Homo sapiens: one gene and its partners. The protein of the gene in region 2 interacts with the protein of the main gene of each other region in a biochemical or structural test. Each region holds a gene or a part of one and is shown on either strand. Other genes may lie near its edges. The genes, in order: PARD3B, RPS6KA1, DLG4 and LIMK2.

Evidence for each region.
Region 1: the proteins of RPS6KA1 (region 2) and PARD3B interact in a test that uses a peptide from one of them, tested with the Homo sapiens proteins (2 studies listed by BioGRID and IntAct, with this or other methods).
Region 3: the proteins of RPS6KA1 (region 2) and DLG4 interact in a test that uses a peptide from one of them, tested with the Homo sapiens proteins (2 studies listed by BioGRID and IntAct).
Region 4: the proteins of RPS6KA1 (region 2) and LIMK2 interact in a test that uses a peptide from one of them, tested with the Homo sapiens proteins (2 studies listed by BioGRID and IntAct).

The regions. Positions count from the first base shown.
Region 1 is NC_000002.12:205,115,463-205,122,484, forward strand, and holds part of PARD3B (partitioning defective 3 homolog B), read left to right. Parts: intron 1-3,458; coding exon 3,459-3,584; intron 3,585-6,128; coding exon 6,129-6,487; intron 6,488-7,022. UniProt on the Homo sapiens protein: Putative adapter protein involved in asymmetrical cell division and cell polarization processes. May play a role in the formation of epithelial tight junctions.
Region 2 is NC_000001.11:26,546,739-26,553,760, forward strand, and holds part of RPS6KA1 (ribosomal protein S6 kinase alpha-1), read left to right. Parts: intron 1-128; coding exon 129-245; intron 246-450; coding exon 451-532; intron 533-4,658; coding exon 4,659-4,739; intron 4,740-4,905; coding exon 4,906-4,985; intron 4,986-6,652; coding exon 6,653-6,759; intron 6,760-7,022. UniProt on the Homo sapiens protein: Serine/threonine-protein kinase that acts downstream of ERK (MAPK1/ERK2 and MAPK3/ERK1) signaling and mediates mitogenic and stress-induced activation of the transcription factors CREB1, ETV1/ER81 and NR4A1/NUR77, regulates translation through RPS6 and EIF4B phosphorylation, and mediates cellular proliferation, survival, and differentiation by modulating mTOR signaling and repressing pro-apoptotic function of BAD and DAPK1.
Region 3 is NC_000017.11:7,214,606-7,222,346, reverse strand, and holds the start of DLG4 (disks large homolog 4), read left to right. Parts: upstream 1-4,719; 5' UTR 4,720-5,173; coding exon of another isoform or gene 5,174-5,199; coding exon 5,200-5,229; intron 5,230-7,741. Other genes in the region: ACADVL (very long-chain specific acyl-CoA dehydrogenase, mitochondrial), read right to left, coding at 45-170, 266-395, 665-809, 1,289-1,423, 1,517-1,581, 1,671-1,743, 1,818-1,883, 2,150-2,225 and 2 more. UniProt on the Homo sapiens protein: Postsynaptic scaffolding protein that plays a critical role in synaptogenesis and synaptic plasticity by providing a platform for the postsynaptic clustering of crucial synaptic proteins.
Region 4 is NC_000022.11:31,215,278-31,222,299, forward strand, and holds part of LIMK2 (LIM domain kinase 2), read left to right. Parts: intron 1-7,022. UniProt on the Homo sapiens protein: Serine/threonine-protein kinase that plays an essential role in the regulation of actin filament dynamics. Acts downstream of several Rho family GTPase signal transduction pathways.

The DNA of each region.
Region 1 (7,022 bases), on a different chromosome or scaffold from region 2:
AGTCTGATGATTATTTTGGCTAAAACCAAAAAGCCTGATTCAGAAATGTAGTTTTATTATAAGTTCATGGTTAACTGTTCAGTAACTTGGTGAAATAGTTCTATTATTTATTTTTTGCTATCCACCAGTATTATAGGAAGGAAATTTAATTAAAAAACATTAAAAATGCTATGGAAGTGGAGACATGAGCCAATAAAAGTTAAGGAGTAATGAGTACAGGCTGAAACAGCACGCTTAACTCAACCCATGTGTCTAGATGCAACTGTGTATAGAGCATGTCAGACAAGTGTCTGACTTCATAATGCCATATGGTTTCACTGTGTGAGCACAGGGGCTTCGTTAAGGTCATAGTGGTATACTTTGCTCTTAATTTCCTTCCATTTATTGGTTTGTGCCATTATTTTAAATTAGAATTTACATTTAATTTTTTTACTAAGATTACTGTAATTGGCTTTGCCTCCAATGTATTTTTTTATTTTTTTTTCTTTTAGAAAAATGTTGCCACACCTGTTGTTGAATAAGAAACCTAATCTAAGTTAGATCATCCTAATAAGTAAATTATAGTGGCTGCTCTGCTAGATAAAGCCTCAATGAATTCATTAGATACCATCGCAGAGGGGTGCTGAATGCTGCTTGTATTGAGGGCCATTGGCTTTCCCAGTAAAAACAAAGCAAACATAAAAAAAACACCAAAGTTCTTGCAACTAAAATGCAACTTAATTTTATTCAGATTTTTAAAATCAATGTGGTTTTTGTGAATTAAAAACATGAAATCTAATTCGTTTCAGTACAGATGCATAATATGCCTCAGTTTCATAGGGAAGACAGCTAAACAGGAGAGAGAAGGAGAAGGACTGGATGAAGGCTGATAAAGACTGTGAGAAGAGATGTTCAAACCAAAATTCTAAGCTGGTAGAGTCACTGAGGCTGTGTGACATTGGGAAAAGAACAGGAAGGGGGCAAGGAGAAGATGTTGGTGCCTAAATGATAATTAGAAGAGCAAGAAGAATTGTTACCCCTCTAATTCTGTGAGGCTGTGGATTTCAGCATCCTTTATCACTGTTCATTAATGCAAATTAACTGGTTAGTCTCGGCCTATAACTCCTCGACAGCATTAATCTTTAAATTCTGCGAGTCTTGGTCCCAAATGAGACAGCTACCACAGCCCACCAGTTCAGGGCAAAGAGGATAATGAGGTATTGTTTTCTGAGCCTTCTTGTATTGGTCTGGATGAAATCAAACTGGAGGGAATCTATCCCTTCCACGGAGCAGAGAGGGCAGAAGTGGTTTGTTGCCAGGGACCAAACTAATAAAATCAGTCAGTTTTACATTTTACCAAAATTACCTCTGACACATGGGTTTTACAGTTGGGCTTATTCTGTCAATAAATTTTTCATGGAAAGTTAGATTATTTAGATCAGTGAGGTTCACATAGCATACTCCAGCTGTAATATGCCAGCTAAATTGCAACCCAGTGGCCCGAAAGAATTAATTCATCTCCCAAAATGTGAAATTAAATCCTAGGGAGTAACATTACATGACTGATGATGTACTGAATTAAATTAAAGGAAGACTTGAATGCTTGTTAAAAAAATATCACTTACATAAACACGTTTATAACCACATGTGAGCCTCCTAATGAATCAAGTTATTGTGAATCCACCCTAACAAAAATCCAAAATGTGAACTCTTAGGATGCTGTTTAATTTAGGGAAAAAACCCATAAGTTTTATCTATTATTTTAATGTGTCAAATAGTTTCATTTTTAATACTGTGTTTCAAGATTAAAGTAACACAGAATATGACTAATTTGCTAACCTACTGGAACTAGGAAATGAACCACAAGACCCCACTGCACACTTGTGCCTATGACCCTGAGCCTTCCCTGCAGTAGATGGCATGGCTGTTTGCTGTTCTTTCTCCTGCAGCAGCGTGCTGTATTCATTTAACATTTTGAAGTGAGACCCAAATATCACTGCCATGCCTGTTGAGGTCTTGAGATGATGGGAGCTCATTAAGGGGACAGAGGTTCAACTCCGTGGCCACTCCAAACAGGAGGACTACTTTCTCTAATACTTGCATTGTAGATTCCCCTTTTCTATGGCTGACCCTGTTATTTACACATAAAATGTACTCATGTTTTATTTAGGTTTGAAATTTAATGTGAAGGTATTTTGTAATAGCACACATGGATTTTATACAAAAGAGAGTGACAAAGTCGAAAAGCAAGAGTATTGATAAAGTGCAGATCACAGTTTCTCCAAATGTAGCAGACTCCTCTTGCAGGACATATCTATCTTTCTTACTCTGGACACAGCTAAGCCTTGTCACATCACGAGGAGAAGGGAAATCCCACAAATAAGAAATAATGAAAATATGTATAAGTTCCATTTCTTACGGTTTTTGGTTTAGTTTTGGTTTATATATGTAACAGAATTGTGTATGTATGTGTGTACACACACACACACACACACATACACACACACATATTTTAATTCTAGTGGCTATAGTTTTCTTTCTTCTTTCCTTCTCTTCCAACCCTCCTGATTCTAAGCTACAGCCACAAAAATCCAGAGGCCTCTTTGTATCCTCTCTAATTTAGCCTCTTCTTGGTTGAAATTTTGGACAACTCTTCCCAAAGCCTGCCTTCATCATGTCGCTGCCCTACTCGGAAGCGGGGTCTGCTAGATGCCCCCCTCCAGGTCCATCAGATTAAGTTCATTGGCTGTTTGTTCAAAGCCTTTGTGTGTGGCACTGGTCTCCCATCTAGTTAGCTCTCAAATCTTTGAAGGCTCTAGGCTTGTTAATGTCTTTAGTTTTTGGACTTCAGCTGTCCCCCAAATGTATAGTGAAATTACCTGGTCCTGGTCCTATGACTTTGTCTCATACTCCTCCATCCTGATCACACAGGAAACACCCAACACATACTTGATTTGGTAGCACCAACAAATGGGATCCAGCTTCCTTCTAAACTGAGTAATATGATCTGAGCTTAAATGTTTCTTTACTTCTTAAAATGCAAATTTTTAGAATAGGTAGTAAGACTGCAAAAATGTTACTGTGAATATCCTAATGCTCTCCCACTGCTAAACATCACGTTGCCACGTTGGCACTAACTCAGACTTACTATAGTCAGGTGTGATGCCCTTCTCCAAACCACAAGTCTTTGGTGTCAACTCCAGTAAACTAGCCTTTCAATAAGTTTACTGCAAGCATGAGAAATGAAGTCGCAGATTGATGTTGGTACTTATGCATATTTATCTAGAAGGGCTTTTTCTCTTGTAGTCAGTTTTGGCTTTTTTTGGATTAGGGATTAAAATAACAAACAGTTGCCTGAATATAAAGTAAAATTTCTTTTGTAAATAGAAATCAATATGTATTTCTGAATAGTTGCAAGTGGAGAAATAATTAGCATTTATTATTCAGTAATTATATTTCAATCTAAATTTTGCATTTAGGATTCTAGGACTCTTCATCCGAGGCATTGAAGACAACAGCAGGTCCAAGCGGGAGGGACTATTTCACGAAAATGAATGTATTGTAAAAATCAACAATGTGGATCTCGTAGACAAAACCTTTGCTCAGTAAGCATTTTTTCATTGTTTTATTTACTTTCTTGATCCCTAGCATGGTTATAAGCATTACTGAACTCATTATGATCAAAATAGTAGGTAGAATTTCTAGTCAGTTCCCTTTGAACGATCCAGGATATCCATTTTCGAATGCTTCTAATGTTTTAGCCTACTCAAAGGTGGCCCACACATGTCTCTGGCAGGTCTGAGAATGCTAAACTACAGAATATCACAAGCCTTCCTGCCTGGCTGTCTTTACTGGGGCGTCGTTGAACGGGTTTGTTTTTCTTGGGCTATGGGTCACTTAAACTGGTATTTAACGGCTCTTTTCACAGACTGTTGGTTCAGCTTATTAATTAACTTTCTTGGTGTCAGCAGTCTTCCTTAAACTAAAAAATCTGTGAGAGATGTCTGAGGACTCACCGAATCATAGAAACAAACAGAAAAAATAAAATACCGTCTCCTGGCCAGGCGGAGTGGTTCATGCCTGTAATCCCAGCATTTTGGGGGGCCGAGGAGGGCAGATCATGAGGTCAGGAGTTCAAGACCAACTGGCCAATATGGTGAAACCCCATCTCTACTAAAGGTACGAGAAAAATTAGCCAGGCGTGGTGGTACGCGCCTGTAATCCCAGCTACTTGGGAGGCTGAGGCAGGAGAATCGCTTGAACCTGGGGGACAGAGGTTGCGGTGAGCCGAGATCGCGCCTTTGCACTCCACCCTGGGTGACAGGGAGAAACTCCGTCTTCAAAATAAATAAATAAATAATACTGTCTCCCTCAAGAAATCATCTTTCTGCATGTGAAAATGTTAAGGGAATAGCTTCCTGTACCCAGGAATTAGAGTGTATAGTAATCTGATGCATATTTTTTTAATGTGTGTTGGCATTGCAGTGGGATTCTGGACCAAAGGACTAAGTACTAATAATCCTTGGGAGTCATCACCACCCTCTTGTTTCTGACCAAAACAGCTCCTAATACATCTTCTCGCTGGGCATTAGTTGTCAATATTGTATGCGTGTTTGTGGACAAAGATGAGTGGTTGTGGGTCGAGGAAAAGTGGGTACTGGCTGCTAAGTATGAAAAGAAATGAAACCTTAGAAGAATCTATTGTGTTAAAATAATGAATGATAGACAAAACTATAGTTAGTAATAATTTTTAATATACTACTGTGCTTTTTCACAAGGACTTGATAATTATGCAAAGCAATCATTATTACTTCTGTTTTATAGAGGTGGAAACTGAGGCTCATAAAAATTTAGTATAGAGTTAGTATGGAGTAGAAACTGATTCCTATGCAAGCAAAAATAACATAGGGGAACTGACCACAGGAGTTAGGTGGAGTTAGGCCTATGTGAAATCTTCCTTCTCCCCTAACAATTTGCAGAATTAAGCACTTCAGAAAGGGGGGTGCGGGGTAGGGTTTAAGGAATCAGATTGCAGTTGGGATTATGATTAGTTATTATGTGCTGTGGCTGCTAGGAACAGAGACCTGAAATAAGAATAGCTGAAACAAGATTAACATTAATTTTTCCTAGCAACAAGCAAACGTGGAAGAGGGCACTCCACAGTTAGTGCGGCAGCTGCACAGCCGCCAGTGGGTCAGGCAGCTTCCGTTTTCTGCTTTGCCATCTCGCCATGTGGCTACTATCCTTCAGTGGAAAAATGGGCACAAGATGGCTGCTGAGTTTCCTCAGTCACTTCTGAGTTTCAAGAAATAGGGAAGAGAAACAGGAGAACAATAAAAGTTTTTGTCTCTCTACTGAACCAGCCGCTTCTAAAGAGCTTTCCTTTAACGCCTTCATTTATATCTTCTGGGCAAGAAAGAGTGGGAAAGGTAGTTGTTTGACCTGGGCACAGGGCATCTAGAGGCATGAGGAAGAAGAAAATGTTATAAGAAGTTTGAGGAAGAACACAAAGTGTTAGGTCATAAAAGTGAAAAACACAGTTGCTCTGTGTGAGAGTAACAGGAAGGGTGCATGTTGGATTGAAATTCCACTGAGACATTTTGGCACAGCCAAAGCACCTGCCAAAATGTCTCCATGAGCAAACATGGATGTCAAACTTGAACTTGTGTAACACAACCCATGTTAGAGAAGATCTGTACTTTAGAAGGATGTCCTAAAAGAAACCTAACTAATGATCTGATCCAAAATATCTATTTTGCTTTTTATATTCACTTTGGTAATCACTTCTGGTTAGATTTTCATCTTTAGAAACATGTAAAAGCTGTGGGTCATTGGATAAATTATTTCATCTCTCTGAGCCTCAACTTCCATGTCCGTGAAATGAAAGCTATTTATACTTACCGAATGTGCTTTCTAAATTAGAGAAGGATGCATGCTAATAATGCATGTATAAGCTAGTGCAGGGGCACCTAGTGCAAATAGTAAGTGGTAACTAGTATGTAGTTGGCAAAGTCATTCTGATAGGAATATTGATCGTGTCTCCTATGATTAGCCACTGTGCTGCTCTTGGTTGCCATCCTCCTGGGGTACTTTAGAAGATGCTGCACCTCAAAGCAGGGTCATCATACATTTATCAACTTTCTTTCCAGGGCTCAAGATGTCTTCCGCCAGGCAATGAAATCTCCAAGTGTGCTCCTCCACGTGCTTCCTCCACAAAACCGTGAACAGTATGAAAAGTCAGTCATTGGCTCTCTTAACATTTTTGGTAATAATGATGGCGTTTTGAAAACCAAAGTGCCGCCTCCTGTCCATGGAAAATCGGGACTAAAGACAGCAAATCTCACAGGAACCGATAGTCCTGAAACAGATGCATCAGCTTCCCTGCAACAAAACAAGAGTCCCCGAGTACCAAGGCTGGGAGGAAAACCATCCTCTCCCTCACTCTCGCCTCTCATGGGATTTGGCAGCAATAAAAATGCAAAGAAAATTAAGATTGACCTAAAGAAAGGTAATTATTAAATTATGCCTAATAGCATTCTATTATTGTAACATGTAAAATTGGTTAAGAGAAATGCATTAAGGCTAATTTAGTTAATTCTCCCTTCATTTAATTGTATCAAAGAATAGATTTAAGTGTATACTTAGGTAACTTAAATTTCTTGAAATTGTACTTTTTTATTCTTTTCTTCGGAGTGTATAGATTATTTTAAACAAGAAAATAATAAAGACATGTTGGGAAGTGGAAAGAATCATTGCAAACCTGATATCAACAGAGCAATATTGTATTACAACTTAATACCAAATAGGCATGAAAATTCAGTTGTCCCTGTTCTGAGCACGATTAGTGATTCTTGAAGCATCCTTTAGGCCATGTCCAAAAAGCATATTGTTTTTCTAAGACAGTCTTCTAACAACAAAAATTTACTCCTCAGAAAGCAAATATGTAATGTTTACTAATTTCTCTGATTCAACGTCACAAACATTTAAAACATACCTAATTTCAAAAGCATGTATAATATTTTCTTTCTTCATCTTTTTCAACT
Region 2 (7,022 bases):
TCAGGGAAGTCGTCTATTGGGCCTTTAGGTTCCATCTGCTGTGGTCTGGTGGGAATGGACTTGGGCAGGGGAGCCTCCTGCTGCCTGGATGGGGCCCACCATGCCCACCAGCTCTGTCCCTCCATCAGGATGAGGGCGTCCTCAAGGAGATCTCCATCACGCACCACGTCAAGGCTGGCTCTGAGAAGGCTGATCCATCCCATTTCGAGCTCCTCAAGGTTCTGGGCCAGGGATCCTTTGGCAAAGTGAGTCATGAGCCCATAGCTGTGAAGGCAACACTCGTCATGTTAGAGGTGGGGGTCAAGGGTCACCTAGGGGCCCAAAGGATCAGAGGTCACCTTGGTACCCAGGGAGAGCAAAAAGGTCAGCTTGGGGCTCAGAGAAGATAGAGGTCAGCCTGGACTCAGACCTCTCCCATCTTCTGCCCTGCTTCCTGCTCTGCCTTCTCAGGTCTTCCTGGTGCGGAAAGTCACCCGGCCTGACAGTGGGCACCTGTATGCTATGAAGGTGCTGAAGAAGGCAACGCTGAAAGGTGAGTGGGGACACCTCCCTGTGCAGAACCCAGGCTTGGCTGAGGGAGGCAGCCCAGACTTCAAGGGCCTTGGGTCTGGCAAGGGAGACAGCTCTGTCTTCAGGAGCACCTAGTTCAAAGGTGGAGAAACAGGCCTATTTCTCAGCTATCCCTCGCCAGCCAATCCTCCTCCCCCTAAGCCAAGTGCTAGTGACTGGCTGTGAAGGTCTGGAAGGTGGTAATAGGGTAAATGCAATGTGTTTGTCAGGGGGCGGGGCCCTCAACTACCAAGCTGGTCAAGCAGAGGCATTCTGACTGTTGATGCTAGAAGAGTCTGGGGGAGACCTCTGTGGCCCCTAACTCAGGGGCCTGAGAGAAGGGCGTGAGTGAAGAGGCAGGGAGCCCAGGGAGGCAGCTGGGCTAGGCAAGAGAGGGTGAGTCCAGGCAGGGCCACAGAGCTGGATGGCAGAGAGGTTCAGAAGGGAGCCCCGAGCCAAGGTTAGAGTTCTGGGGACTTACAAAGGGTGTGAAGATGGTTGGTAGTGGGCTTTGGGTTGGATACTGACCACTTGGCCTGGGAACCAGTGTGACCACTGACCCGGCAGAGTCATAGCCAAGTCTCTCTTTAAATAAGTCAAGGCCGGGCGCGGTGGCTCACACCTGTAATCCCAGCACTTTGGGAGGCTGAGGTGGGCGGGTCATTTGAGGTCAGGAGTTCAAGACCTGACCAACATGTTGAAACCCCGTCTCTACTAAAAATACAAAGAAATGAGCTGGGTGTGGTGGTGTGCACCTCTGATCCCAGTCAGAGCCAAATCCTAGCTGGGGAGGTAGTGGGGGCAGTAGGAGGCGTCAGCCTTAAGGACGTTATGGGTGGCTTTGGTATCCTAAGGCCAGCCTGGTGGGTGTGGAAGTCATCCCCCAGGAGGTATGGTGGCAGCTTCAGAGGGAGGAGAAAGATGAAAAGCCTGGGTCCCTGCTGTGAAGGGCTCACAGGCTGGGCAGGAGAGGCTAAGCATACCCGACAGTGTGGTGCAGCCGGTGCTGTGACTGGTGTGCGTGGATATCCGACGCGCTGGGGAGCTGGGAGTGGTGGTGTAGTCTTGTAGAGGGTGGGCCCAGAGGCCAAGGGGACACCTAAGGAGCGGGAAGCCTTGGAGGATGAGTGGATTTCTCTAGACCAAAAATGTTTGAGGAAGGGGACCCTGGGAAGGAGAAACTGTTTGCCTGAACTAAAGTGTAGAGGTGGTTTGAAAATGTAAGGTAAGCTGGGTGCTGTGGCTCATACCTGTAATCCTAGCACTTTGGAAAGCTGAGGCGAGTGGATCACTTGAGGTCAAGAGTTCGAGACCAGCCTGGCCAACATGGGAAAACCCCATCTCTACTAAAATACAAAAATTATCTGGGTATGCTGGTATGCACACCTATAGTCCCAGCTACTCAGGAGGTTGAGGCACAAGAATTGCTTGAACCCAGGAGGTGGAGATTGCAGTGAGCCGAGATCGCGCCACCATACTCCAGCCTGGGCGATGAGAGCGAAACTCCATCTCAGAAAAAAAAAAAAAGAAAAAAGAAAATGTAAGGTGACCAAAATAGTTAACTCCGGTGTGGTCCTTGTCATGTCTAATGAGGAAAACACAAAAATTAAAACAGAAGAAGGGGACCAGCTCCTGCAGCCCTGTGTGCTGACATAGAAGGTGTGTTGGAAGGCAGCTGCAGCTTCTACTTGTAGCAAGGGCCAAGGATTGTGTCCTGAACAAGACTCCGGAAAGACATGCAGGAGGAGTACATTGGCCAGATCTCCTAAGATAAGCAGCTGTGAGCATCAATTCTGGAATGGCAGTGACGAATGAATAGAATTCATACTAGATGGATGGACTAGTGAAGGCTTTGGGACTATGAGGCTGGAGAGGAAACTGCCAATCCAGTACATGGACCAAAAAAGCCTTTAGTTTTGCATTGTGTGTATTGCTCAGACATTTTGTCTGGTCTTAGTAAGCACTCCCTAGCCTTCCACCTCTCCTTTTAATAAAAGTCAAGGCTGGGTGCGGTGGCTCATGCCTGTAATCCCAGCACTTTGGGAGGCCAAGGTGGGTGGATCATTTGAGGTCAGGAGCTCAAGACCAGCCTGGCCAACATGGTGAAACCCTGTCTCTACTAAAAATACAAAAAAAATGAGCCAGGTTTGGTGTGTCTGTAATCCCAGCTACTCAGGAGGCTGAGGCACTAGAATCGCTTGAACCTGGGAGGCAAAGGTTGCAGTGAGCCAAGATCACACCACTGCACTCCAGCTTGGGTGACAGAGTGAGACCCTGTCCCATTAAAAAAAAGTCAAAGGACACATGAGAGGTCTCAGTCAAGGGGTAATCAATATTGTGATAAACTTAGTTGAAACACACTGCCCAAAATGAACCTAGGCAGCCATGTCCAAAAGCCTGTTCTTTTTTTTTTTTTTTTTTTTTTCTTTCCCGAGATGGAGTCTCACTCTATCGCTCAGACTGGAGGGCAGTGGTGTGATCTCGGCTCACTGCAACCTCCGCTCCGCAGGTTCAGGCAATTCTCCTGCCTCAGCCTCCTGAGTAGCTGGGATTACAGGCACATGCCACCACGCCTGGCTAATTTTTGTATATATATTTTTTTCTTTTTTGAGACGGAGTTTCACTCTCGTTGCCCAGACTGGAGTGCAATGGTGCAATCTCGGCTCATCACAACCTCTGCCTCCCGGGTTCAAGTGATTCTCCTGCCTCGGCCTCACGAGTAACTGGGATTACAGGCCCACGCCACCACGCCTAGCTAATTTTGTATTTTTAGTAGAGACAGGGTTTCTCCATGTTGGTCAGGCTGGTCTCAAACTCCTGACTTCAGGTGATCCGCCTTCCTCAGCCTCCCAAAGTGCTAGTATTACAGGCATGAGCCACCACGCCTGGCCAATTTTTTTTTTTTTTTTTTTTTGAGGCAGAGTCTCACTCTGTCACCAGGCTGGAGTGCAGTGGCGTGATCTCGGCTCACTGCAACCTCCGCCTCCTGGGTTCAAGCGATTCCCCTGCCTCAGCCTCCTGAGTAGCTGGGATTACAGGCACGTGCCACCAGGCTGGCTAATTTTTTGTATTTTTTACTAGAGACAGGGTTTCACCATGTTGGCCAGGATGGTCTCGATCTCCTGACCTCATGATCTGCCTGCCTCGGCCTCCCAAAGTGCTGGGATTAGAGGTGTGAGCCACCACGCCTGGTCCCAATTTTTGTATTTTTAATAGAGACAGGGTTTCACCATGTTGGCCAGGCTAGTCTCGAACTCCTGACCTCAAGTGATCCTCCTGCCTCAGCCTCCCAAAGTGCTGGGATTACAGGCATGAGCCACTGTGCCCGGCCCAAAAGCCTGTTCTAATCAGACTAGTGAAATCAATAAAACATGATACTTGGTGGGCTTCAATAAATTTAGAAGGCAACCTGAAAAAGAGAAAAGTGCTCCAAAGGAGAAGCACAAGCACTGTAGGAATCCAGAAGGCCCTAACCCAGCTTGGCAAATTAAGGAGCGCTTCCTGGAGAAGGTGAGGCCTAAGCTGAGTCAAAGAACCTGCTGAGAATCAGAACTGCCCAATAACTTGTATTATTTAAAAAAATAAATAAATAATATGAAGGGTGCCCACCCAGACCCATAGATCGGGATTTTAGGCCCAGGGATCCAGCTCACCAGGTAGCCGTTCTTACCAGCCCCGAGACCAGAATTTGGGAATTTTTATGCCAGATGGAAAGCAGAGCTGGTGAAGGCATGCCAGGGGGAGGTGCAGAGGCAAAGTCTGAGGATCTGACAAAGCAGAGAACCCTGGGGGAGCAGGTTGCTCAGACTGGCTGATTAACAGGTCTTGATGGGGTCTGGTGGGAAAAGGGACCAGAGAGATGGGCAGGGTGCCAAGGCCCCAGCTGTGGGCACTGCTGTGAGGGGTGGGGACAAGGAGCCAGCCAAGGAGCCAGAAACAGACTGGCAAGGAGGAAACCTGAGGATTGAGTGTCCCCAAAGCCCTGGGTGAGGGGGCTTTGGGAGCTCAGGCCTGGAGGAACAAGTGGAAAAGAGATCCCTTAGCGGGGGCTTGGGAGTGGCTGTGTTGAGTGTCTAGGCTACTGGTGACTTCCTTTCTCGTCTGGCCAGTACGTGACCGCGTCCGGACCAAGATGGAGAGAGACATCCTGGCTGATGTAAATCACCCATTCGTGGTGAAGCTGCACTATGGTAAAGCTTCTGGCCCTGCCTGAGCTCCTACCCCACCCATCCTTCGCCCTTGCCTGTGGTCTGTACACTGTCCCACCGCCTGCCTGGCAGGCCAAGGGAGCCAGGGCCGGAGAAGCAGATCATAAGGCCGCGCCGACTCTACCATTGCCTTTCTCCCTCTTCCCAGCCTTCCAGACCGAGGGCAAGCTCTATCTCATTCTGGACTTCCTGCGTGGTGGGGACCTCTTCACCCGGCTCTCAAAAGAGGTGAGCTGACATCTACTGCCAGAGGGCCCCGGGATGGAGCTGAGGGACGACAAGTCCTCCCATCCCAGGGCCCTGTACAGAATGTGTTTGGTATGGCTTGAACCTGGAACCACCCAGGCCTGCCTAGCAGCCCCTGGCCCAGGAAATACCACGCACCCTGGAATGGAGGCCATACGCTGGCAAGGTCTCTGAGAGTTTCTCCCAAGGAAACTCCAGGGAGCTAAGGGTTCCTCTCACCTCTGCACCTGCCTTCTTCCAGGGCTGCTCTGGGCAGAGGTGTGAAGATAGGGGAGAAGCCCAAAGTCACCCAGAGAGCCAGAGACTTTAGCAGTCATCTTGCGTATGTCATCCAAAAGGATTTTGAACCAATATAAAAGGATTTGAGGCTGGGCGCAGCGGCTCACGCCTGTTATCCCAGCACTTTGGGAGGCCGAGGTGGGCAGATCAGGAGGTCAGGAGATCAAGACCATCCTGCCCAACATGGTGAAACCCCGTCTCTACTAAAAATACAAAAATTAGCTGGGTATGGTGGAGTGTGCCTGTAATCCCAGCTACTCAGGAAGCGGAGGCACAAGAATCGCTTGAACCCAGGAGGCAGAGGTTGCAGTGAGCCAAGATCGCGCCACTGCACTCCAGCTTGGCAACAGAGCGAGACTCTGTCTCAAAAAAAAAAAAAAAAAAAAAAAGGATTTGAGCTAGAAAATGGGACCATTCGTACAATTCAAACTTTAAAGAGAATCTAGCTTTTTTTTTTTTTAATTGTAATTTTTTTTTTTTTTTCAGATGGAGTTTTGCTCTTGTCACCCAGGCTGGAGTGCACTGGTGGGGTCTCAGCTCACTGCAACCTCCGCCTCCCGGGTTCAAGCAATTCTCCTGCCTCAGCCTCCCGAGTAGCTGGGATGACAGGTGCACGCCACCACGCCTGGTTAATTTTTGTATTTTTGGTAGAGACAGGGTTTCTCCATGTTGGCCAGGCTGGTCTCGAACTCCTGACCTCGGGTGATCCGCCTGCCTCAGCCTCCCAAACTGCTGGCTGGGATTATAGGTGTGAGCCACCGTGCCCGGCTTAAATTGTGATTTTAATGTTTGAATAGGTAATATACATGATTCAAAAGAAAAATATTCATGAAGAAGTCTTCCTCCCACCCCAGCCCCCTCTATTCCCATCTATAGGTAAACATTTTTATTGGTTTCTTGTTTAACTTTCCCATGTTTCTTTTGCAAACAAATCCGATATATGTTCATTCCTACCCCCATTTCCTTATGTAAAAAGTACTATTCTGTATACACTGTTCTGTACCTTGCTTTTTTCAAGATAGTATATCTTGGAGCTCACTCCATGTCAGAACACGGAGAAACTCCTTGTTCCAGTTCATGGCTGCAAAGCACTCCATTATGCAGGGGAGAGGGCTGATTCCAGCCTTCTACTCTTGGACCCTAGGCCTGTTTCCCACCCCTTCTATTTCTGAATGGTGCCACAATGAGTGGCTTGCGTATTAGTCATTTCATACTTCAAATCCTTTGTATGATGAGAAGGCTATATGGCCTGGGGTTTCCAAGGGTCCTCCCAGGGTGGCTCTTCAGGACCAGGAAGCTGCTGACTGCCCAGTGCCCCAGCTCTTAAGGAAGAGGAGGTCCCTGCTGAAGGCCCCTCCTGTCTTTTGCAGGTGATGTTCACGGAGGAGGATGTGAAGTTTTACCTGGCTGAGCTGGCTCTGGGCCTGGATCACCTGCACAGCCTGGGTATCATTTACAGAGACCTCAAGCCTGAGAAGTGAGTGAAGCCTCCAGCCCCACCCCAGCCTCCCCAGGGGAGGCCTCTTCTAGGACAGGGCCATCCTGAGGTGGGTGGGCATGGCTTTCTCCAGAAACGTCTCCCTCTCTTGGGCAATCTGAGGGATGGGTGAGTGGGGTGGGTGGTAGTGCCAGCTGCCCAGTCACTAATGCTACCATTACCAAGGGCCAGGTACTTTGCATGCAGGTAATGTTGCCCGTCTTTTTTTGCTAATCTAGTGTGACATTTGAGATGCCACCTTT
Region 3 (7,741 bases), on a different chromosome or scaffold from region 2:
TCCTGCCCCTCAGTCCTAAGCTCCCCCAACCCAAATTCACTCACTGGGTAATGCCCCCGAAGCCCCTCTCCACCACAAAAGCTGTGATCTTCTCCTTCACGGCTCCTGTGGCTGGATCTGTAACTGGTGTCTTGGCAAAGACCGTGAAGATGTCTGCTAGGCCCCCATTACTGTGGAAGAATGGGATATTCAGGGCGTGGAGGACGGGGAGCAGTGGGGCCTGGAATTGGGCGGAGGAGAAGGGGAGAAATGGGAGGCAGGTTGCCTGATCCAAAGCTTGCTTCCATTGAGGGTATAGTATTTTCCACAGGGGCTGGGCACAGCAGAGGTTCGGATGGAGGCTGCATCTGACCCGCTTGAGGGCTCGGTTAGACAGAAAGCGGCCACAGTCTCCCCTGTTGGGGAGAGAGCTACTTTACCCCAAGTTCTGATGAGCTTCAAAGTCCCCTCGGCCCACTTCCCCATCCCTCCAGCAGGCAGTTCCCCCTTAACACCTGGGAGTATCCAGTTCTTTTGCATGTCCCAACCAGCACACTGTGATGCCTCCCCAAAACCTTCCCCCAACTGAAATGCTCAGCCATCTGATAATCTAAGTGCCAACTGGCCTAATCTGTGCCAAGCCCAGTGTGCCCCCCAATCCCTGGCTCTCCTAGGGTTGCCTCACCAGATGCCAGCTTGGGGAGGTATTTTTCTTTCTGGGCCTTTGTGCCAAAGAGCAGGATGCCTTTGAAACCGATGCTCTGATGGGCCCCCAGGGTAATGCCCACGCCAAGGTCATGCATGCCCACGATCTCCACCAAACGGGCGTACTGGAGGGGAAGCAGGAATCTGGGGTTGTCACTGGCTGCAGGGGGACCTGACCTTAACAGGAGAGTGTGGGCAACAGGGCAGTTCCTGACCTAGGGCAGTTCCTGACCTAGGGCAGTGCCTGACCTGGGCCATCCCCAGTGTGTAGAAAAGAAGTGGGGTGTGCAAAGGGCACAGCAGAGAATGCTGGTCTGTCTTAGGTCTAGGTAGGAGGGTGACTTGCTACTAGTCAGTCTATTGTTAGGCAATCCCCAACTTAGAGATTTGTAAGGACTTGGGAACCAGGGTGAGGCCCATGGCTCAGGCCTAGGGGACTGCATGTAAATTGTGTTATGTTTGGACAGTTAACATCCATCCCACAGGCACCCAGGGCAGGTGCTTAGAAGAGACCTTAGCCCTAGTCTCTAGGTCTATGGCAAAAGAGCTGAGTCTGCCAAGCTGGGGTATGGCATACTGGGATGTGGCGATAGGGCGCCCTCACCTGGGTGTTGCAAAGGCCCACACCACCCAGCTCACTGGGCACTTGCAGACCAAAGGCCCCCAGCTCCTTGAGGCCCTGCCAAGTGGTCTCCTCCACCATCTCCAGAGCGTCATTCTTGGCGGGATCGTTCACTTCCTGGGGAAGGCACAGGATCCCACATCCAGGCTCCTTTTGAGCTTAACATCTCCAAACACCTCACCAGGGACCAAGCCCCGAGTCATTCCTTACCTCGAAGAAACGGGACACAGGCTCCACCAGCTCTTTAAGAAACTGTGTCTGCTCTTCGTTGAGCACTGCAGAGGGTGGGGGACAGGCTGGTCAGGCCAGGCTGGCAGGGGAAACCACCCTGGCCCCACCCAGCTCTGATTATCCCTTCCCTTACCGGACGGGTATGGGAACACCTGATCTGTGGTGAGCTGGCCTTTGAACATTCCCACAGCAAAGGACTTAGATTCCTGGGCAGAGAGAGGCAAATTTCAGGGCTCTGGTTGGGTCTGGCTAAGGTCCACCTGGCCTCGGGGCTACCTACCGCCTTGGCCGGTTTTTTCCTGGTCAGAGCGTCAGAGGGGTGGGAATCTGACTTGTCCAGAGCCAGCTGGGAAAAGAGACGGTTAGCAAGTTCAGGGAAGGGACTTCCGCTGTGTCAAGGGGAGAACAGGCGAGAGCCGCGCGGGGAGGCGGCGCGAAGCGGTGACCTTTCCCCTAGTTTCGCCCTAGGGCACCCTGGCTTGCCCTTTCCCCTACTTTCGGCGACTGAGCAGTAGGCAGGTACCTGGCACCAAGAGGGAGATCCCTGCCGATGGCGGGCGCCGAAGCGGACCGCCGCTCCCACACCCCCTTGCCAAGGCTGCGGTGACTTACCTGAGCGGCACCCCCGGCATAGGGCCGCCGGGCAGGGCCGGGCCGGGGCTGCCCCAGGAGCGCCGTGAGCCGCGAGCTGTGGGGAGTGGGGGTTCAGTGCCGGCCCGGTGCCCAGGGCCGCTGCCCACCGTCCCTCTTGTCACACACAGACCTTCCGCCCCCGAGCCTCAGCAGCTGCCGCCCCAAGCTCGCGGCCATCCGAGCCGCCTGCATCTCCGAATCTCTCCGGGCGCCGCTGGCTCGAGCTCTGACCCAGCTCTGGCGTCCTGCACGCCCACGTCCTGGCGCCCCTAACCCTGACTCATCGTCCACAGTGCACCGGGCGGCGGACGGTTGCGGGCCCCGGGGCATGCTGGGAGCTGTAGTTCCCTGGAGCCCGGCCCTGCGTTCCGCTGACTTAGAGGGATCTCCAAGCGTCCCTCGTCTCCCCCAAACTCCTTAATCCCGCCCGTCCGACCTAGAGTCTAGTCCTCCGACGGGGTGATGGGATAGGATGGGACAGAAGAGGAAGGGGCTTAAGTCACTGCAGCCAGAGGGATGGAGGTGGACTGAAGGGAGGGCTTCTCCGGTGGGGTTAGAAGGGAAAAGTAGGGAAAGAGAAGTGTAAGGTAGATGGCAGAGGCAGAGACATGGAAAGACAGACTCTAGGGTTCCTGATGAAATCTATCTCGGCCAACACAAAAGGGAGGGTACAGTGGTGGGGGGCACCCAAGCTAGGGTGTGAGTACCCTAAGTGTATTCTTCTGAGATGTAGGCCATTCACTAACTCTTGGAACAGCTACAGTTTCACAGTAGGAAGACCCCCCCAGATTCACTGCCCCTCCCTTAGTAAAGCCTCTGAGACCTTCCTGAACATTCCCTTCTGTCTTTGCCCTCTGTTCCTTCCAGAGACCATGTGCCCAGGCAGATGGATTCCTCCCGGGCCTGAGAGGAACTGCAGGAATTCTCCTGCCTCTTACCCGTAAAACCCCAACTTCTCTAGCCCTAGGGCAGGAAGTCCCAAACAATTTCTACCCCTTTTTCTGCAATTCTCATTGGGGTGAGAGGAGGCCCAGGAGGAGAGAGAGCTGGGCTCAGCTTCTTTTTGAGCTGCTGGAGCCCTCTGTGAGGAGGCCCTCTTTGCTGGCTTCTCAGGAGAGCGTGGCTAGGTTCTGCCTGCCTATGGGAAGAGGGGGCCAGGGTGTGTGGAGCAAGATGGTGGCGGTGCTGGTGCCTTGGGACCTGGGGGAATGGGACAGCTGGTCGGCTCAGAGACGGCCTACTTTACTCACAGCTGGAATTTAGTGGGGAGAAGCAGCTCAACTCCAATCCTGGAGGATTAGGGAGATTAAAGTGAGAGAAGAGAGAGATGTCCCAGAGACCAAGAGGTGAAAAACAGGGCTCCTTGTGGAGGGGAGGTCTGGGAGCGAAGTGGGGGGCTGGGGCTCGGAGATCCTTCTCCCCAAATCTTTCCGTAGGGGCTGGGGTGAAGGGCACAGTCTGGGGAGATGAAGTGACAGTGTGTTCATCTTCCTGTGTTGGCATCTTCCCTGTCCCAATTCTCCTTGCATCTCACTAGCTCCCAGGTCAGCCCTCTGGCTCCTGGCACCCCCACTGCTGCGGTGGGCACCCCCACTCCTCACAGTGCTGCATAGCGACCTCTTCCAGGCCTTGCTGGGTGAGTAGCCCGTTTTCTGAGGGACCTGGGCCTCCAAGGGCCATTACTGAACTTCGGGGGCTGTTTGGGAGCCCAGAGATCATTTGGTCCAAGCTGGAGCACCATGCAGGGTCCTGCCTATGGTGTCCTCCATGAGTGTGGACCAGCCTTGGCTGAAAGGGCTCCTCCCTTGCCAGCCAGCCAGCAGCGGTGATGACAGGGGTGATGTGCCTGGAGAGGCCTGGGGTGGGGAGGTAACTCAGTTCTGTTCCTGTGACAGACATCCTGGACTATTATGAGGCTTCCCTCTCAGAGAGTCAGGTAAGGAGGTGGGGGCGAGCGCCTAACTTCCTGAGGGGCAGGCAGGGCTGGAGGGGTGAGCCAAATATCACTAATATTACCTGGAATCTTGGGGGCCCTGCTGACAAAAGCCTGAGTCAGTGGCCCAGGGACTTGGGGCACCGAGAATGCACTCTCTGTGGTCCTGTACCCACTCTCCCTTTCTTCCTCGTTTTCTTTGGCTGCCCCAGTTTCAGGCACTAAAGAGTCTAGGGCTTAACTTTTTAGGTTTCCCCCTGAGAAACCTGAGGGAGAACTAGGCCCCCAGGGATTGCCTCCTTCAGCTCCTCCCTCACACCCGACCCCCTACCGCCTGCCGAGAGGCCTCCCTCCCGTATTCAAATAACCGTGGGTGCTCCCAGCCCAACTATAGATGCTTCCTTCTCTAAGAAATGAAATCCAGCCTCATCGTCTTTGCTGTCATCGCTGGTGGCTGGCCAGGTCTCCATGTTTGCCTCAGGGGCCTCTGTGCTTCTGCTTCTATCTCCTTTCCCATTATCCGGGTTCCTGCCAGCACAGAAGGAGTTAACTCTGCCAAGGCACCCCCCCCATTCTGGCTCCTAGCTCCCTCCCTCCCTCCCCCTGCTTCCTCTCTCCTCCTCTCTCCCCTTCCCTCTTCGGCTCCACGGCTCCCTCGGCCGCTGCCGTTTCCAACCCCCCCACCCCACTCCCCCGCCACGGCCCCTAGCCCCTGGCCGTTTGGCAAGACCCCCCCCTACCCCGGGGCTCCCCGAAATCCAGTTCCCCTCCCCCACCCCAGCTCATGCCCCAGCCCCCGAACTCCGGGGCTGCCAGCCCCCGGTGCCCCCGCCCCTCCTGAGAATCGGGGTGTGCTCCCCAAGCCCCCTCCCCTCCACTGGGGAGCCCCTTTTAGGGCCCCCTTCCCCTCCCTCCCACGCTCCCCTCCCCTTCCCTTCTCCAACCCCCTCCTTCCCCTCTCACCCCTCCCCCCATCCTGGCCCCCCCTGCAAAAGTGGGGTGCGGAGGGGGGAGGGGTGAGAACCCACGGAGGGGAGGAACGAAACTCCGATGAAGTCAGAGCCCCTTACCCGCCGCCGCGGCCAGGCCCCCCAACATGGACTGTCTCTGTATAGTGACAACCAAGGTAAGCATGATGGGGGGGCTATAAACTGGGGGGAGGGTATGAGTTTGTGGGGAGGGGTTAGTAGGCCTTATCTGGGACTGGCGCCCCTGGAGTGGCAGCATCAGAAGTAAGATGTATTTGGGGGTCTTAATTTAGTTTTGGGGTTCACATCTGAGAAAATGCAGGATTTGGCCACAGGTGCCCCCTGGAGTGATCCCTTTGTACCTGTAGGGATATGGAAAATTTAGGATATTCCATGGTTCGGGGGGCCTGGCGGGTTTGGGGGTTCATCAGCGCTGTTTGAGGGAGACTTATTTAAGGAGAAGCCTGGCTCATAAGGGAGTCCTGCTGGTGTATGTGGGAAGGTGGGCTATGTTGGGGGGTTCCTCTTTCCTCCCCAGGGAAAAGCTGGCTTCCAAGGGCCTTGTCCAGTTTTGGGGGGCTCCTGGCATGGGGTAAAGGTTATTGGTTGTGAGTGCCTGACTGATCTGGGGGTGTCAGCTGGCAGGGAAGGGGTGGGCCTTCAGACTCTAGAACAAGCATCTCGTGGTGGCTGCATTTAGGGATGCTCTCTCAATTTGAGGGAACTGTTAATTTAGGGTTCAGTCATATAGAATGGAGGTAGTTGGAAGTTGTCAGAGGGCTGGGGCCCTGGCATGGGATCACCTGAGGGAATGGACCAGGTGAGGCAAGGATTTGGGGGTACTCCCATAGGAGGCAGAAGATTGCAGCAGCCGAGCTTGCCAGCCCCTGAGGAGGAGGATGAGAGGCTTAGGGAGAGAGGGGATTTGAGGAGGGGGACCGGGTGGGTGGTGCACAATTTGGGGGTGGCCCAAAGGCAGGTGCCCAATATCCCCATCTCCTCCCACACTGTATCTAGCCCTGATCAAGAGAGAGGGAGAAGAGCAGATGTGGGGACTGTTCCAGATACCCCTGACGCTTGGGATCAAGGTGGGGGAGGACACCTGGATTTAAGGGTCCCTGAGGGCTTATGACCGAAGTTACTGAGGTTACTGGGGTGAAAAGGTGTAGGAGGAGGGCAGGGCTGGCAGCGATGGGGATCTGTGCAAGAGTGTCCCTCTGGTTGGAGCCTGGCAAAGGCAGGAGATCTCGGATGGAGCACAGGCGAGCTCCTGGTGGGATGCAGATACCTAGGCTCTCCTTGGAGACTCTGGGACTGGAGAGCTGGATGCCTGGTGTGTGGAGGGAGGCTTGGGCGGGTGGCAGGCAGCTGGGGGCTGGGGGGTGGGACAGGAAGTGGGGGCCGGGGGAGGCGGGGTCCGGGTGAGTCACAGGCTGGGGAGGGGGTTATATTTAGTGGGAACTGCAGCTTTTCATGGGAGGGAGCTGAGGACACACATGTTCCCTGCCACAAACTCACACATGTGTGTACACATGCATTGTGCACGTGTGAGGATGGTTGGAAGAGATTGGGGGCTGAGGACCTTTAGATCTGGAGCCCCCACCCTCTCTCCACCAGGGCGACTTTCTTGTCCTTCATTCTGTGGGTTTCGGGCTTTCTCCCAGGCTGCCTCTTCCCCACATCCCCTGTAGTTTCGGTGGATTTTTATGCCTCAGTTTCTCTGGCCTGGTTTCCTCTGCTCCCGCTGTCTCCTGCCCTTAGGCCTGTCACTTGGCCTTAGGCTCCATGGCTGTGGTCCCCTGCATTCCAGGTGTAAATAGAAAGCCCGCTGGAATGTGTGGGCTCTGCTTCCAACACGTGAACACACAAATGGGAGCGAGGGTGAGGGGCTTGCCAGCAGGCAGCTATTCTGGGTGGGTGGGTGGCCTTATTCATTACCCACTCCAGACTCCTACTTCTTCCATGGAGCCCAGGGTTGAGCATCCCTGAAGGAAGGAGGCTTACAGAGCAGATCATGCATTTGGGGTTTACAGAGGCGTGGAGACCCAGGCTTGCCACATTCCTTGGCTGGAAAACTTGTCAGCCTCGGTATGGTGGGGACTCCAACTCCCATAAGGCCCCGAGGCACCAGATCCCTCAATGTTAGAGGGTTGCTGCCCATGGCGCTGTTGGGAGTTGTGGTTCATCTCTATCCAGGGCAGCCAGCGGAGGGTAGCCCAAGAGGAGCCTGCAGGGGGCACATGGCTCCTGCTTCCCCAAATGCTGGATGGGGTAGGGAGTGCTCAGGCTTTGCGGTCGTTGAGCTCCCCAGCTCTGCCTGAGTCTTCCATCTTTCATTGCCTATATTTAGACTCCTGCCGCAGTAATTTAAGGAACATTTATTGAAAGCCTACTGCGTGCTAGGCCCTGTGTTGTGTGCAAACTCCACTCTACAGCGATCACTTTGTCTTTCTTGGTGCCTTTATCTCTGCCAGAATCTCTCGTCTCTGAGCATCTCTTTCTCCCACTCCGCCCCCGTCCCTCCCCCTTTCCCCGCGCTGCTGCCGCCGTTGCCATGGTAACCGGCGACGACTGAAGCTGCGTGGCGGACTGGAGGGCCGGGCGAGGGTGGCGGAAGGCGGAGCAGAACAAGTGGGGGTGGGGATACAGTGGGGGAAAGACTGAGGCTAT
Region 4 (7,022 bases), on a different chromosome or scaffold from region 2:
TTTCACTTGTTATTCCATTCAAACCATGTTCTGAGACACCTCAGATTCCTCGTGTAACCGGAGAATCGATAACAAATCAAATATTTACTGAGTGCCTGTGATGTCTGTGGCACTGGGCAGGACCAAGTTTTACCTCTTATAAATTTTAACAGGTGTTAGAGCCAGGAGAGAGTTTTGAGATAATGTATAGTCTCCTTGTTTTACCTATGAAGAAACTGAGGCTCAGGGAAAAAAAACGGAGTTGTCCAGGGTCACTCAACTAGTGGTAGAGCCAGAACCAAGGTAAGACTTCTGCAGTGTTCTTTCCAGTATTCCAGGCTGCTTAAGACGTACAGGGTCTGGCACATGGTAAGCCCTTAATAAGTATTTGTGGAAATGAGTTATATATAGTTTGTGCCTCTGAGAAACTTACTGTCTAGTTAAGGTAATTAAGGCAAAAAACAAAACTGCCATGCTGATCAGTAGTGGGATTGCGCCTGTGAAAAGCCACCGCACTCCAGCCTGGGCTACATAGCAAGATCCCCATCTCTTAAAAAAAAGAAAAAAATTGATAAGACAAGCTGTTATAAGGCTTGCGTATGATAACATTATAGAATTTCAAAGATGAGGGAGAATTCTCTTCAAACATTTATTCCACAAATATATATTGAGTTCCTGCTATGTGCTAAACTCTTTTGGCCCCTAGGGATACAGCAAGGAACAAGATAGACCAAATCCCTTCCCTCATGTAGTGTATGTTCTGGTGGGGAGAGATAGACAGCAAGTAAATGTATGAACATCATATTCAGGGATAAATCCATTGAAGAGAAGTGAAGTAGGGTAAGGGGATAGAAGAAGTGAGTTGTCAGGGAATGTGTTTGGCATGTTTAAAGAATAGCAGGGTATCCAGGGTGGCCATCAGTTTTGGTTAGGGAATACTTCTTGAAGTGGGTAAGACTTGAGAAATCTTAAATAGGCTTAAAGAAGGTGGGGAAGATGATATCTTAGTAGGGAAGAAACTTTGGGAGTAGGAGACAAAAGTAGGCAAGTTTCAGGTCTTCATAAAGGGTAGCAAATACGTGTGGTAGAGGCAAGGATTGGGAGGTGGAAGATTCATAGGAAGTGGAAGGTACAGCTGAGAATGTGGGTGCAACCGGACTAGAGGGTTTAATGCCAGGCTGAGGATTTTGGAAGTTTCTAGTCTACAGTAGGCACCGTAGGTTTAGAGAAAGGAAGACTCATGATGTGGGCACAGGGCCACCAATCTGGAGGTGGGTATAGTGGGCCCTGAGATGAGGTCTTAGTGGTAGCAATGAAGAAGGCACCAACCAATAAAAGATGCCTCCTGACATAGGCAGGCCAGGGTGACTTGGATGGTCCTGGATATGTGATGGAGCAGGGTAGGGTCCAAAATGACCACAAGATTTCAAAACTAAATAAAAATCCGTCATGATCAAGGGGCTGTATTAGGCTTTCCACATTCATGGTGGATTTTCTGCATCTTCTGGAGGCTGAGCTGATTCCCAGAACAGGGCTGCCTTCTTGTTAGTGTAACCTTGAGCGGGTCTGATAGGGCCCACCATCACACACATCTCATTTCAATGAGAGGACCTGAAACTGTAGCAGTCTCTTACAAGTCTACCTTCTTTCTCATCCTTTATCTATTTTTATATAGTAGAAAGAATTAGACTATTTTACCTATTAATTTACATTGAATAGTAACTAGAACATGAAACCAATGCCTGGTTTCATTAAAGTGTTCCTTGAACATTCTTTCTGGGATTCTTTTTTATCATGTCTTTCTGCCTGTAATTTGTTTTGTCCAGGAAAGAAAGTCTAAAATGTAGTTAAAGACAGGCTTTGAGCCAGGTGCAGTGGCTCACGCCTGTAATCCCAGCACTTTGGGAGGCTGAGGTGGGTGGATCACAAGGTCAGGAGTTCAAACCAGTCTGGCCAAGATGGTGAAACCCCATCTCTACTAAAATACAAAAATTAGCCGGGCATGGGGGCAGGTGCCTGTAATCCCAGCTACTCGGGAGGCTGAGGCAGAGAATTGCTTGAACCTGGGAGGCAGAGGTTGCAGTGAGCCGAGGTTGCACCACCGCACTCCAGCCTGGGTGACAGAGCGAGACTCCGTCTCAGAAAAAAAAAAAAAGACAGGCTTTGGAGACTAGACCTGTGGTCTAATCCCAGCTCAAACATTTATTAGCTGAGTATTTCAGTTTCCTCTTCCGTAAAATGAGAACAATAATAGTTCTTTAAGACTAGTCCTGATCTCATGGGATCTTTGTATTCAGTTAGCTCATACTTGCGTAGTGCTTAGGACATTGTCTGGCATAAAGTAGTTTTTTTCCTCTATCATTGACAACTGGCAGAGAACTGCTGTATGAGAATATATCAATTGGTTAACCAGTTCTCTGATAAAGATATTTTTATAGGCCCTCCATAGATAAGAAAATGCCTACTCATTCACAGTTGAGTGAACTTCTGGTTGGAAGTTGCAGTCTGGGTGGCCTGAAAGACATAAGAACCATCTGTCTCATTTGTCACTGCAGTGTATTTTGTTAATGTACTGAGTTTGCCTTGCCTGTAGCACCTGGTTTGTCCCTCTCTGACATGTTATTTCTGTGTATATCCATGTCCTTCACACCCCATGAGTACACACCAAGGGCCCCAGTAATTCCTGGCCTACTCTGTGCCTTGTACATGGGCACATAGAAAAAAGTTTGCTGAGTTTGTTTTGAAAACCTTCCCTTCAGATTTTAGAAGTTTCTGTATTCAGCTTAACCTTTTCCCCAGCCAACTTCCTAGATACACACGCAGGAAGGAAGAGAAGTTAGTCACAAATCGGTCCAACTAAGTGCCTGGCACCATGGGAGATATTTTCACATCTATTACATTATTTCTATTAATCCACTTGGTAATCCTGTAAAGCAGGTGGTATTATCCTCTTTTTAAAGATTAGGAGACAAGCTCAGAGAGGTCAAATAATTTGCCCAAGGACACAGAGGCAAACAGTGACAGATTCAGGTTTCAAACACACATACATTTACCCCTCACAAATTTTTCCAAATAAACCAAAGAAGGGAAGAAGAGAATAACAGCAAGAAGGAAACTTTCTGAGATACCTGTGTCTGTGCCTTAACCTGAAAAAGGAGAGGCCCTTGGTTTGGTGTCAGTCTCTCAGAGCTGGAAGAAATCACTTGATCCCTCCTTTTACAAAAGAACAATCCAAGGTTTAGAGAAGCTCGAAAGCTCTTTTAAAAATCATCTAATCTTTTTTTTTCCTGAGACACTCCTTTTGGTAAAATTTGGTAAGCTAGTGAGGAAGAAAACCCTTTGGGTTACAGGGAGAGTATCTAGAGGCATGTTAATCCTTACTGTTAGTCTTTTTGATAGTCACTTCATTAAAATGTGATCTTTTTCTCTTGGCTTTTCCCCAGCAGCTGCTGCCCTGCCCTTCTGCTTTCTGCTTTGTCCCAGAACAAGTGGGATTTATACACCTGACCCGCCAGTTCCCAAGGGGCCCAGGGGTTACCATACTTGTTTTATGCTGCACTGAATTGGCTGAGTTTTGTTCCTGGTTCTCGTTGTCTGGTGGAACGTGAGAAGCTTCAAAGATTTTTTTAAATGAAAGGATAGGATGTTGATTTAAGCTAGGCATTAGAGTCTCATGAGCTCTCAGTGCTTGAGGATTTCTCACCATTTTGAAGCCTAAAAAGGACTCATTTGCAGAAACCAAGCTCTTAGACCAAATTTAAGGTGAACATTGTGGGGACTGCATTGGCTCTGAGCTGGGATACCAGGCCAACCCTTCCACTGAATAGCTGTGTGTTCTTGAGCAAGTCTCAACTTGTCTGAGGCTGCATAGGGTATTAAAAATATGACTGGCATGGTAGTCTCTGAGCATGGGTTTGAATCCCTCCTGGACCATCTTTCAGTAGCTTTGTGGTGGTTAGGCAAGTCTATTTTCCTTCTTTTTTTTTTGGCGCCTGCCCCAGTGGATTCACATTTGTTTGAGGGCCACATTGCTAATTAAGTTGGGAGAGAGAAGCATTCATAAAGTGAATGTAAAGTGAATGTATTTTATACCAAGATTGAAAAGGTCTTAAAGGTGAGAACCCCTATAATGAGACATTTGTTGCAGTGCTCACCTTACGTTGCACAGTTGCACTTATTAAAAGCAACAAATTCCAATAATAACTGAAAACACAGTTTTCTGTTTATTAAACACCTAATAAGGGTCCTTTATTGTTTGAAGGTACTGTGAACATTTACTTAAATCAAGCTCCTTTTCTGGACTCTTCTTTTTTTTATTTTATTTTATTTTTTTGAGACAGAGTCTGGCTCTGTCGCCCAAGCTGGAGCGCAGTGGCACGATCTCGGCTCACTGCAAGCTCCACCTCCCGGGTTCATGCCATTCTCCTGCTTCAGCCTCCCGAGTAGCTGGGACTACAGGCGCCCATCACCATGCCCGGCTAATTTTTTGTATTTTTTAGTAGAGATAGGGTTTCACCGTGTTAGCCAGGATGGCCTTGATCTCTTGACCTCGTGATCCACCCGCCTCGGCCTCCCAAAGTGCTGGGATTACAGGCGTGAGCCACCACGCCCGGCTCTTTTCTGGACTCTTAACAATCAGTAGCCACTGTTGATAAGTCTGCAAATATGAGAGGTAAACACTATAGAGGGAGAGAATGAACAGCCTGGTACAATGAGATATTTTCTTAAGAAAGAACTTCCCAGGCTGACTGGACTTTGGATTGATCCTCCACTAGGCTTCACAGAAATCCCTAAGACTTTGCATTACAGTATTACATTTCTTTTACATTTCCTAGAATAAAGGTGGTAAGAGAATAGATCAATGAATTTTTAAGACTGTAAGAGAGCTAAAGAAGTCAAGAGTGTTCTCTTGAAGAGGGTCTGGGCGTAGGAGGCTGTGTGCTTTGGGTGAATATCTTTGCTCAGGTACTTCCTAACAGAAAAGCAGTGTGAATGCATAACAGGTAAACTGAGGCCAGGTTTATCCACATGAGACTACTCATAGGTAATCTGGGAGCCAGAACAGTTATTCCAGTGGAATCATCTGTGCTGACCTTTGGAACTTATCTTTGGAAATTGCTTTTATAGCTGGCAGTTGGATCCAAATTTTCAGTTGGGTTCACCACACAAAGGAATGTCTGTTTTGCACCAGGCCCAAGGTTAGGCCCTGGAGATAAGAACATAATAAAGATACAGTTCTTACACCTTAGTTCTCTGAATGGGGTGTGGGGGAGGAGAGTGGAGAGAGAGGGACTGAAGGAGAGAGAAACATATGCAGTGAACTGTAATTAAATAACAAATTATGTAAAATAGGTATAGACAAAATGAAACAAACACTGCCTGATTTTAGGGAACTTTAAAGAAAGGATAGAAATTTGATTAAGGGGCCGGGAGCAGTGGCTCACGCCTGTAATCCCAGCACTTTGGGAGGCCGAGGTGGGCAGACCACCTGAGGTTGGGAGTTTGAGACCAGCCTGACCAACATGGAGAAACTCCGTCTCTACTAAAAATACAAAATTAGCCGGGCGTCGTGGCGCATGCCCACAATCCCAGCTATACTCGGGAGGCTGAGGCAGGAGAATCACTTGAACCTGGGAGGCGGAGGTTGTGGTGAGCCGAGATTGTGCCATTGCACTCCAGCCTGGGCAACAAAAGCAAAACTCTGTTTCAAAAAAAAAAATTTTTTTTTTGATTAAGGGAAAAGATAGAGAAGCTTATACATAGAGAATAACTGGAGGTGTGAATGTCAGGATGCAAGTACATGAATAAAAGTGGCAGGAATAGAAAATAGGTCAAAATGTAACTAGAGCATTCTTTTGTAAGGAATGGTGAGAGAGAAGGGTCCTTTGGGACCACATTGTAAGGACCATTTGCTCTTTCAGTAACTGTTTATTGAAGGATTGTAGCAGACCAGGGGCCAGACATGGTTTGCTAGCCCTTTGGAGGTAGCAAAAGCCAACTTTAATGATGTGTGAGAAGTTTTTGTTCCTGCCCCAGGGCCTTTGCACATGTCCCCCCTCTCCAGTGTTAGCCTTCCTTCCCCCCTTTTTTGCCCCGTTAATTTGTATTCATCCTTTAGAGCTCAGCTTGGAAATTACTTCCTCAAGGAATACTTTGGCCGCCCGCCCTTTTCCTAGTTATGAACTTGATATCTTCGTACCACTTGCCCCAATTATAAATAAATAATAATAATAATTATTATTTTTTGAGACAGAGTCTCGCTCTGTCGCCCAAGCTGGAATGCAGTGGAATGATCTTGGCTCACTGCAACCTCCGCCTACCAGGTTCAAGCAATTCTCTTGCCTCAGCCTCCTGAGTAGCTGGGACTACAGGCGCCCACCACCATGCCTGGCTAATTTTTGTATTTGTAGTAGAGACAAGGTTTCACCATATTGGCCAGGCTGGTCTCGAACTCCTGACCTTGTGATCCACCTGCCTCAGCCTCCCAAAGTGCTGGGATTACAGGCGTGAGCCACTGCGCCCGGCCCTCAATAAATAATTATATTATTGTTTAATATTTGCTTTGTGTTTAATCTCTCTCTTGTTTGCTCCTCTTTCCCCAACACAGTGTCAGATGCATAGTTGGCATGCAATAAATATTTGCTGAAAGAATGACTGAAGCGGGTCCATTGAATTTAGCAATAAGCAGTTACTGTTACTGTTGACCTTGGTGAGACAGTTTCAGAGAAATGGTGGGGGTGGAAGCCAGATTGCAGTGCATTATGCAGAAAGTGGGAAGTGAGGAAATGAGGGCAGCGATGTGTAGACAACTTTTTTTCTTTTTTCTTTTTTTTTGAGTTGGAGTTTCACTCTTGCCCAGGCTGGAGTGCAATGGCGAGATCTCAGCTCACTGCAACCTCTGCCTCCCGGGTTCAAGCCATTCTCCTGCCTCAGCCTCCTGAGTAGCTGGGATTACAGGCATGCACCACCATGCCTGGCTAATTTTGTATTTTTGGTAGAGATGTGGTTTCTCCATGTTGGTCATGGCTGGTCTCAAATTCCCG